Homo sapiens: one gene and its partners. The protein of the gene in region 1 purifies or fractionates together with the protein of each later gene. This does not show direct contact. Each region holds a gene or a part of one and is shown on either strand. Other genes may lie near its edges.

What was found.
Region 2: the proteins of SLC25A15 (region 1) and EDEM2 purify together in Homo sapiens (co-immunoprecipitation; one large-scale study listed by IntAct). This does not show direct contact.
Region 3: the proteins of SLC25A15 (region 1) and SDF4 purify together in Homo sapiens (co-immunoprecipitation; one large-scale study listed by IntAct). This does not show direct contact.

The regions. Positions count from the first base shown.
Region 1 is NC_000013.11:40,792,494-40,796,140, reverse strand, and holds part of SLC25A15 (mitochondrial ornithine transporter 1), read right to left. Parts: intron 2,984-3,647; 5' UTR 2,915-2,983; coding exon 2,860-2,914; intron 1-2,859.
Region 2 is NC_000020.11:35,116,211-35,119,857, reverse strand, and holds part of EDEM2 (ER degradation-enhancing alpha-mannosidase-like protein 2 isoform 1 precursor), read left to right. Parts: intron 1-1,138; coding exon 1,139-1,260; intron 1,261-2,650; exon of another isoform or gene 2,651-2,722; intron 2,723-3,647. Other genes in the region: MMP24-AS1-EDEM2 (ER degradation-enhancing alpha-mannosidase-like protein 2), read left to right, coding at 1,139-1,260. UniProt on the Homo sapiens protein: Involved in the endoplasmic reticulum-associated degradation (ERAD) pathway that targets misfolded glycoproteins for degradation in an N-glycan-dependent manner.
Region 3 is NC_000001.11:1,221,996-1,225,642, reverse strand, and holds part of SDF4 (45 kDa calcium-binding protein isoform 2 precursor), read left to right. Parts: intron 1-1,674; coding exon 1,675-1,811; intron 1,812-2,285; coding exon 2,286-2,399; intron 2,400-3,647. UniProt on the Homo sapiens protein: May regulate calcium-dependent activities in the endoplasmic reticulum lumen or post-ER compartment. Isoform 5 may be involved in the exocytosis of zymogens by pancreatic acini.

The DNA of each region.
Region 1 (3,647 bases):
ATCGCTTCCGTGGGTGACCTCTGCCACAAAACACAACAGGTCCTCTGCTCCTATCAATGGCTGGCAGAAAATTCCCAAAGCCCAGCAAGTTCCACATCCAGAAAGGCAGGGCCCAAAGGCTCCAAACTAACCCTCCCCTCCAGTGTGCTGCAGATGCATTACGGAGTACTAAAGCAGAGACAGCAACGACACCAGACAAGGGACCCAGGGATCACAGTCCTGCCCTGTCTTCACACCATCTTGCTGTGTAACCTTGAACAAATCTACTGCTCCTCTGTGGGCCTTTTTCTACATATCCAACGAGCATTGGAGCCAACAATGTCTAAAGGTCTCTCTAGCTCCAGCACTCCAAGACTCCAAGATCCTCAAAAGTGGGTTCCATTTGCATTCCATAGGCCTCACAGCAGAACAGAGGTTTCTGTGTCACTGCTAGGCACCTCCTCTGCCCAGCCCCCAACCTATAGACCATGTCTCGCTCCCCCTCCCTATCCTGTCCCCCCAGGAATGGGCTTCGTTGTCCTCAGAAGTTAAGACTACCCACAGCATCTCTACCTCGGTGAGGGGCGTCCCTGTGTCGCCAGCACAGGGGGAAATACCTGTCCAACAGTGATGGGGACAGTGTGTCAGTATACATAAGGGATCAATACATGTTCAAAACATGCCCACCAGCAAATGCCTTACATACCAGGCTCCCAACCATACTGTTGCAATTTCTATCTTTCAAACTAACTTGTAAATTATAAATGTGGTACCCAAATACCTGTATGCACATAAATAGGAAAAGGTAAACTTTTAAATTCTATCACCATAGGTTCTAGATCTTTGACAGATTGACTGAAAGACATAAAATGTCAAAAGCTGAGACTATATGTGGCTAAACACCCTCCTTCTGCAGAAACAGAACTGAGCCCAAGAGCATTCACTCGCTGGTGAGAGGCGGCCTGGGGCAGGCAGATGTTTGCACCATTCTCAGGGTCAGCGTCCTCCCCAGTGTGGCATGGGGGAGGGGAGGGGGAAAGGGGCTTGGGAGGCTGTAGCCTAAAGGCACGCAGTGGGCAAGAGACTACTGGGCAGACCCCCACTGGCCTTCCGTTCCCTGGGCATCTGGGGCTGGGACGCTCCTTGTGGGTTCTGCCCTGGGAGAAGTGCCCTTGCCCAGTGCTCCTCATTAGGCTCGGTGACGGTGACGCGCTCTCTCCAGTCTTCCTCATTAGCATACCCTGGCTGACCTTTGGCTCATGGAAAAACACTTTGCTCTTCTCTGAACAATTTCTTTTTCACAATTGAGCAAATGACTGATGAGGTGACCATATTCATGACCATACTCATCTGCTGGTGGTGGGGGTGGGGGGTGTGCTGGATAAGGACAGCACTGGGCAACACCCCCGCTGGCCTCCCCACTCCAGGGAGCTGCAACTACTATGAGAATCCTGCGGGAGCCCAGGGTAGTCCAGGGTTTTCCTTTGGGCAATCAGTATTCCAGCCACTCCTCCTACTTCTGGACTCTGGAGAACCAAATTACCACCATGCACTTCCCATTCCGCCCTGTTTCCCAGCCTGAGGGTCCTGCTCTTCCTGCATGTTCAAGCTGATCTTTCTAAGGAGTAGCCTGCATGGTGCCAGCACTACCCCTTATCACAGGTAGCACCTCCCTGTGCTGGGGGAGCCTCAGGCTCTTGGGCTCAGGCCCCTAGGCTCAGGTTAGCTGACATTCCCAGCAAATCCTACAACTTTCACGGCTCTAAGACACAGTCCATTATCAGTCTCATTTTCAGAGACATGTCTTTTTTTTTTTTTTTTGAGACAGAGTTTCACTGTTGTTGCCCAGGCTGGAGTGCAATGGCGCGATCTTGGCTCACCACAACCTCCGCCTCCGGGGTTCAAGCGATTCTCCTGCCTCAGCCTCCCAAGTAGCTAAGATTACAGGCATGCACCACCACGCCTGGATAATTTTGTATTTTTAGAAGAGACGGGGTTTCTCCATGTTGGTCAAGCTGGTCTTGAACTCCTCACCTCAGGTGATCTGCCCGCCTTGGCCTCCTAAAGTGCTGGGATTACAGGCGTGAGCCACTGCGCCCAGCCTTTTAAAGACATTTCTAAGAGTGTCCTCCTTTCTTTCCCAACACTAGCAGGGACAGTAAGTGGTGTTTCCCAGGAGATGCTATGGTGTTATTTTTGCACAACAAGGGCTCTGAAGACTGCCAGGCTTGAAGTGAAGAACCACATCACCTGCATATCCCAGCCAGGTGACAATGGACACGTGGCTTCACCTCTGAGCTGTTTTCCAGCTGTACTGGGCACCTTCCACCCATCACCCTGACTGACAAGGTGTTAACAATAACGGACACTCCTCTAGCTTCTGCTACTCTCTGAACAATACTAAACTTCCATCAAATGGATTAATCCCAAAGGTAAAGTACTGGAGGGAGAAAGGTAGTATTTTCATACCACTTTCATTTGATCTCATTTAGAGAGTAGTTGAGGAATAGAGAGAACTGGGTTTTCTCTGGGATTATAGTTAGGCATTGCTTAATGACTGGGACATGTTCTGAAATACATGTCATTACACAATTTCGTCATTGTGCTATCATAGAGCATACACACCTGACCCTAGATGGCGTAGCCTACTCCACACCTAGGCTATTCGGTATGGCCTATTGCTCCTAGGCTATACACCTGTACAGGATGTTACTGTACTGGATGTTGCAGGCAACTATAACACAGTGGTATTTATGTATCTAAATGTATCTAAACACAGAAAAGGTACAGTAAAAATATGGTAGTATAATCTCATGGGACCACCATCAGATACACCATCCATCAACGACAGAAACATGGTGATGAGGCACATGACTGTACCTGCAGCCCCCGCTGTGAGGTCAATGGCAGCCTGGATAGCAGGATTGGATTTCATGTTTGCCCACTCTTCTGCTGGTCTTGTGGAAGGCAGCTCTCTGGAGCTTATGACAGGCACCACATATCCCTGGGGGGAGGCAAGAGTTCACCATTAGTCCAAGTCTGCAGCATCCTGTTCTCTAGGCCTGCAGCCAAATTACAGAACCTAAACTTCTGGGAGCCATGACCTGGGGTCCACACTGTTCCAAAGGAAAGGGGCTCAAGGTATCAGTGCAGCTTAGCAACTGCCTCCTAGAAAGCTCACAGATCAAAAACCTCCCCTGTGTATCAATGCTACAGCCACCAGCAGCACTTCAACTGACCTTTCTGAAAACTGAAAAAACGAACACCAAATAAGTAAGCCAACCACAGGTGTACCAAACCGCATCAGACTTGTTTTTTTAGAGGCCTATGTTGAGCCATCAATTGAACAGGCTCAGTTCTAAATTCAGACAGCAGCCTGTGCTGGGTGCCTAAGGGGATCTCACAAGACAGTAGGTCTGGAAAAGAGCACCCAGGCAGCCAAGGGTGGGAGCTGCACCCTGGGATCACACACGCCTTGGTGAATGCCTGCTCTACCTGCAGTGTGGCTCCTTCAGCCTCTACAGCTGGGAGTCCTCATCTGTACAAGGTGAATAATAAAAATATTATAAAACAAACACAGTCACAAATAGCCACATCAGACTGATGGGACGCCACACCGTGCACAAGCATCATGTGTTCTTAGAACAAGGCCCTGCGCAAGCATCTTC
Region 2 (3,647 bases), on another chromosome or scaffold:
TTCAGGTATTTGAAAGCAATAAACACATTTTTTTTGGATTTCCTTATCTCTAGAATAAATATTCTCATCTGGACCCACTCCTGTTGGCTAATATTCATCTTAAGGTAGAGCTCATGTCTTAACATCAAGTTCCAGTTGTGGCATAGAATTGGGCAAGACAAAACATCACTTTTTCTGGCCACAGTGAACTGATGACTACGTCTTTGTTAGATTGACGGTTTGGTGGTTTATTTTATTTTATTTTTTTAATTTTTATTTTTTGAGATAAGGTCTCACTCTTGTCATCCAGGCTGGAGTGCCGCAGTGGCTTAATCATGGCTCACTGCAGCCTCAAACTCCTGGGCTCAAGTGATCCTCCTACCTCAGCCTCCTGAGTAGCTAGGACTACAGGTGCATGCCACACCCAGCTAATCATTTTTAATTTTTGTAGAGACAAGATCTCGCCATGTTGCCCAGGCTGGTCTCAAACTCCTGGGTTCAAACGATCCTCTCACCTTGGCCTCCCAAAGTGCTGGGATTACAGGCATGAGCCACCCACCATGCCTGGCCTGCTCTTGGATATCTCAGCCTTTTCTTTTGGTCCATCCTATCTTAGAACGAGCCTTATGATGCCAAGCTCTTACTCTTCTTTTGAGTTTTAGAATTAGGTTAGACTCTGAGTGACAGGAAAAAAAATAGTAGCTTAATTAGGATAGAAATGTATTTCTCTCTCATGTTCTGGGCTTATATGGCTCGCCATGGTGTCCTTAATCCCACCTAGCTGTTAGAATAGTTAGTGTTGGCAGCCAGGCAGCCTGTGCTTAGCTAAAGTTAGGAATCCTGCTACTAAGGAGGAAGCGGGGAACAGATATTGGGAATTAGGCAACAACCTCCGCCACCTTCTCTATGCCAGAACCTGGCCACCTTTCTCTCCCTTGTGGTGGAAGTCACTGGTCAGCCTTAATGCTGGTCTCCACTGAGCTTCAAGCTTTGGGTATACTGGCTCTGAAACTCAGCACTGGGTGAGGTATCCTGTGTTCCTGCTAGTTGGGGCCTTATGGACAAGATATGGAGGGGAGTAGTCCCTCACGGCCCTAAGAGGCCCCAGGCCATCTCTGTGCAGCCACTGAGTGAGGAGGGTCTGCTTTGGACTTTGCAGAACTTATTGAAAGCGCAATGTACCTCTACCGTGCCACGGGGGATCCCACCCTCCTAGAACTCGGAAGAGATGCTGTGGAATCCATTGAAAAAATCAGCAAGGTGGAGTGCGGATTTGCAACAGTAAGTGTTTGCATGGCCCCAAGAACTGGGAAGAGTCTCCCCTTGCTGCTAAAAAGCCTCTTTAAGGGTAGAGCTTTGGGAGTTCTGACATATCAGCACTAGAAGGGACCTTGGAGATATACATAATGCTCATATTTTACAGATGGGGAGACCAAAGAACAGAGAAGCTAAGTGCCTTGCTAAAGATCTCACAGCTAGTAGAGGTAGAGCTAGAATTAGTTCCTTGGGATCTTGACCCCGGCCCTTGGCATTCCTCCCACAGTGGAGATCTTTGATCTGTTTGAATAGGTGACTTTGAAAAGGTGAGTTTAGCGAAAAGTTTTGTGAGACACTAAAATAGATTTTAAGGGGAATCCAGAGTCCCATAGCCCTATATTCAAACCTGGGACTCCTTAACAAAGCAGTCCTGCTTAGTCTCACAGATATTTCTTGAATGTCTTTCACATGCCAGGCACTCTGCTAGGCCCAAGGGTTACAGCAGTGGCCTTGCTCTCATGGAGCTTACATTTTAATGAGAAAAAAACCATGAATGTGTATCTGGTAGACAGAAGGCCAGTGTGGCTGGAGCGGAGCAAGCAAGGAGAAAAGTGGGAAGAGATAAGGTCCCAGAGGTAGGCAGGGGCTAGATCATGTAGGGTTTTGTGTAAGCCACAGGAAAGAGTTTGGGTTTTTTTTTCTACTTGGAATGTGAACCCTTGGTAGGATTTACAGCAGAGCAGTGACATGATCTGATTTGTATTTTAGAAAGATCGCTTTGGCTGCTTTGTGAAGAATAGATTGAAAGGGTCAAAGGTGAGAGCCATCTCACATCCATGCAGGAACCAAGCAGGCAAGATATAAATATGAAAGTAGAAGAAAATAGTCTGGAAGAAAATCCCCTGAAAAGCCTACAGTGTTGGGGTATGGAATTCAAAACAACAACAAAACACTTATTTTGCAAAAGTTTGTAATGTGATTATATTCTATAAGTAAAATATAGATATGTGTAGGGGAAGAGAGAAGACCTACATGTGGAAGGGAAAAAATAAACCCCTGATATGATTTGGTTTCTAATATGCTGTATTGTGTGAAAAACCAAAATGATAAGCCCACTGGGGCCTTCCTAGGAATGCTGGGCTCATTTCCATGAACATGAAGCCCTTTGGAGGTCTTCCATGGTGAATGATGGGAACAGGGGTCTGACCTTTCTCAAACAGGGCAAGGAAATAATCATCTTGATACATCAAGACCATATTTGAGTCATATTTTTAAATGTAAGATAGAGTCCACTGAGAATGTTTTGTTTAGAAGTATTACTAATTCTGAGAAGCTAAAATAAATGTTTGTAGCAAGTAATCTTAGTCATCCATGCCTGAAAACTCAGTTGAAATTCTCTAAATAAGACTCCTTACTAAAACAATGTCAATAGTTTTCATCAACAGCAGTTGAACCTAGTAAGTGTCGATACTTTGGGTCTGAGTGGAGAAAAAAAGACCCCTTATTAGTTGCTTACAAAAACTTGGTAATTGGCCAAGCGCAGTGGCTCAGGCTTGTAATCCCGGCACTTTGGGAGGCCAAGGCAGGCGGATCACGAGGTCAGGAGTTCAAGACCAGCCTGACCAACATGGTGAAACCCTGTCTCTACTAAAAATACAAAAAAAATTACCTGGGTGTGGTGGCATGTGCCTGTAGTCCCAGCTACTCTGGAGGCTGAGGCAGGAGAATTGCTTGAACCCGGGAGGCAGAGGTTGCAGTGAGCCGAGACCATGCCATTGCACTCCAGCCTGGGCAACAGAGTGAAACTCCATCTCTAAAAAAAAAAAAACTTGGTAATCATCTGAATGCCCTTCCAAGGAGGATTAGCCAAGTAAATGGTGATCCATTTTCACGATGGAATACTCTGCCATCATTAAAAGGGACGATTAGCTCTATGTTTATAGTCACAAAAAGTTGGGATAAAGGGGATAGGAGATTGTCATGTCATAGAGCAAGGTTAGCGGAGACCTTTCTGGTGAGGAAGCATTTGAGCAGAGACCTGAAGGAAGGGAGGGAACAAGCTATGAGAAAAACTGGAGGCGGAGTGCTCCAGGCTGAAAGAACCACAGATGCAAAGAGCCCGAAGCAGGAGGGTGCTGTGCTAGCTCAGGACAGAAAGGCAGCAGCTGGAGCTCTTAGAGTGGTAAGAGGTGAGGGCAGGAAGGGAGCAGGGGCCAGGTCATGACTTGCATTTTTATCCTGCATGAAATGGAGGGCTCACAGAAAGTTGTGAGTAGAGAATTGACAGGAAGACTTATGTTATACAGATACTGTAGGAGCTTGGTGTGTGTCTCACGCCTGTTATCCTGGCACTTTGGGAGGCCAAGGTAGGAGGAATTGCTTGAGCCCAGGGATTTGAGACCAGCCTGGGC
Region 3 (3,647 bases), on another chromosome or scaffold:
ACCCACCAGGTGCCCCACCTGCCACATGGCCACCCGGGTGGCCCCGTCCCCAGCCGGTGTGTTTTGGGGACTGTGGAGCTGAGGGTGCCTCCCAGGCCCGTCCACCTCTGGGCTGCTGCGGCTGCTGAGGGAGGGGCGCGTGTGAGCGGCAGCCTGGCCTTCTTCCATGAGGATCTCTGCCCAGTGCTTCTGAGCCGTGCCTGCGGTGTGTGCACCCTCGAAGCTTGCCTGGCCCAGGTCCCAGAGGCCACACCTGCCTGACGAGGGCCTGCTTGCCACCTCATAACGTGGCCGCGGCTGCCCCTGAGCGGAGCATAGAGGCAAGGGGCCAGGGCACCCTACTCTCGGGGATGCCTCCGGCAAACGCACCAGCCGGGGTCTCAAGACCTCGCACCTCTGGAAGCCCTGCCTCCCAGTGCTGTTGCCCTGGGGGTTAAGTTTCCAACAGGTGAGCTCAGGACACGGGCGGCTGCAGCAGGGGTAGGAGCCTGTGGCTTCCACAAAGACATAATGGTGAAGCCGAGCTCTGAAGCTGGGACGGGAGTGACCTGTCCTGGGGCCTGTGGCCTCCTGACCTGGCCTGCGCTGGCCCCGTGTCCCCAGTCTGTGTCCCTATCCCCCAAGTCTGTGGTCTCTTCCATCCTTGCACACAATGTTAAGTCCCCACACGGTCTTCTTCCTAAATCTCACAACTTAAATTTATATGAAGGATTTTGTTTTGTCTTGTTTTGAGTCAGGGTCTCGGTATGCCGCCCAGGCTGGAGTGCAGTGGTGTGATCACAGTTCACTGCAACCTTCGCATTCCAGGTTCGGGAGGCCTCCCACCTCAGCCTCTTGAGTAGCTGAAACCACAGGTGCACGCCACCGCGCCTGGCGAATTTTCGTAATTGTTTTTGTAGAGGTGGGGTCTCCCTATGTTGCCCAAGCTGGTCTTGAACTTCTGGGCTTAAGTGATCCACCTGTCTTAGCCTCCCAAAGGGCTGGGATTATAGGTGTGGCCACTGCGTCCTGCCTATATGAAGGTTTTTGTGTAGCCATACCTGAAGCATCGAAAATAAAACATGGGCCGGGCCCAGTGGCCACACCTGTAATCCTAGCACGTTGGGAGGCTGAGGTGGGTGGATCATTTGAGGTCAGGAGTTTGAGACTAGCCTGCCCAACATGGTGAAACCGTATTTCTGTTAAAAATACAAAAATTAGCCAGGCGTGGTGGTGCACCCCTGTAATCCCAGCTACTCGGGAGGCTGAGGCAGTAGAATCGCTTGAACCCGGGAGGCGGAGGTTGCAGTGAGCAAAGATTGCGCCACCACACTCCAGCCTGGGTGACAGAGTGAGACTCCATCTCAAAAAATAAAATAAAACGTGAAGAGTGTGACTTTTGGAAGCTGTGGTTGGAGAGTGGGGTCTGGTGGTGATTCTGTGTGACAGAGGGGGAGGGTCCATGTGTTTCCCCGGGGAGGGGACCGTGGCATCCACCTTCCCCAGTGTCTCTGGCGTGGCCCGGCACCCCACAAGCCCCACGTCCCGGACGCTTTTCGCGTTGCCTGGTGGAGCCTGTCGCTGTTGGTGGCAGGTTCACGCAGCCATGGAGTCCTGGGCCGGCGGCATCCGTCTGGCTGTTCGGGGTCCTGGGGGCCCAGTCTGACGGCCACCTGCCCATTTGCTGTCTTGCAGGGTGGATGTGAACACTGACCGGAAGATCAGTGCCAAGGAGATGCAGCGCTGGATCATGGAGAAGACGGCCGAGCACTTCCAGGAGGCCATGGAGGAGAGCAAGACACACTTCCGCGCCGTGGACCCTGACGGGGACGGTACTGTGGCTGGGCCGGGGTGGGTGGGGCGGTGGGCGGGGCGGGCAGGGCCATGGGCCTTGCCTGGTGCCTGGAGGGCAGACAGGCCCTGTCTGAGGGACGGGCGGTGGGGAAGTGTCAGCCGGAGACCCCGAGGTGTGGTGGGGTGCACGGAAGCTGGGTTCATGATGCCAGAATCCTGGTGACAGAGGTGTGTGTGCCAAGCACTGGGCGTGGCCCATGGAGGGCGCCTCTTATGTCTTCGGGGCCTTCATCTGGTGGTGTCTATGCCTCTTGGTGGCCCCGAGGCACAGACGTTGCCGGCTGGCCTCACAGGTGAGGAAACGGGTGTGGGGTGCTGGCCGGGGCCCTGGGGCTCCAGACGCTGGCATCCTGCCGCTTCCAGCCTGGGCAGCAGAGCAAGACCCCATCTCAGTTGAGAAGGAAGTTCAGCTCAGTATCAGAGGCCCTGACAGGTGTGATCTGCTCTTCCAGGTCACGTGTCTTGGGACGAGTATAAGGTGAAGTTTTTGGCGAGTAAAGGCCATAGCGAGAAGGAGGTTGCCGACGCCATCAGGCTCAACGAGGAACTCAAAGTGGATGAGGAAAGTGAGTGCTCAGCCAGGCTCCCGCCACCGGTCTCAGGCATCCTGTGTGTGCGCGCGTGTGTTGTGTGTACATGAGTGTGCCGTGTGTGTCGTGTATGAGTGTGCCGTGCGTGTGCTCGTGAGTACGTGTGTGCGTGCCGTGTGTACGAGTGTGCTGTGCGCGTGCTCGTGAGTACGTGTGTGCATGTTGTGTGTACGTGTGCTGTGTGTGTGCTCGTGAGTACATGTGTATGCGTGTCGTGTGTACGAGTGCACTGTGCATGTGCTTGTACGTGTGTGCGTGTCGTGTGTACGAGTGCGCTGTGCGTGTGCTTGTGAGTACATCCAGGTAGCTGTTCATGTAGGCTCGTGAGTACATGCAGGTGAGTGCGCCCTCACACCCGCTGTGTGCACACGTGTTCGTCTTAACAGCATGGCCCAACCTGGTTGGTGGTGGCTGTCAGGAGGGAAGTGGGTGAAGCCGTTGCTGACCTAGGCGCCGCCCAGGAGTCCGGTGGGGAGCGTGTGAGCTGTGCCTGGGCAGCTTTCAGCTCTGCTGGTCACGGCACCTTCACGGCCGTTACTCAGTTAGGTCCTGCAGAGAATCTGAGGCTGTGAGTCTGGGTTGGGGCCTGCCCCGTACTCTGAAGGCCACGTGAGGCAGAGTTTCCTGGGGAGAGGGCACAGCCTGTGCCTGAGGGCCTGGCCCTGAGGCCTGGGTCTGCTGGAGACATCTGTGTGGCCGTCAGGTGGTCACCAGAGAGCGGTCAGGTCCCAGGGAGAGGCTCTTCCTTGGGTCTGGGGTGTGGCCGTTGGCCAGCAGGGCAGCCTCAGCCCTGGGCGGGTCCAAGCTGGTGCCTCTGCGTGAAGAGGGTGGGGCCGGGTGGGGCCCGGCACCCGGGCTAAGGCCAGGTGAGGGGAGAGCCGGGCCACCCTGCACGGGGCCAGGTCTGGGAGAGCCGTCCAGGCAGAAGCCCCTGCTGGCCCAGTTGTGAGGCACAGCTGAGCGGGTACCGTGGCGTTGCTGCCACCCTGGGGCTCCGTGTGCCCTTCCCGGTCATGCCCGTGGTCTGGTTTGGGGCTTTGAGGAGAACGTGCAGAGTCGCCTGCTCCGTCGCTGCCCGGCATCCTGGGGTGGGTTCTCTGCTGCCCTGCAGGGCGCCCGTGTCGCCCACGGGACTGGTCACGTGATACGGGGCTGCTCCTGGCAGGCTGGGTGTATCTTACACCTTTATTTTTTGTGCCTGCTTAACTTATCAGTAACACACAT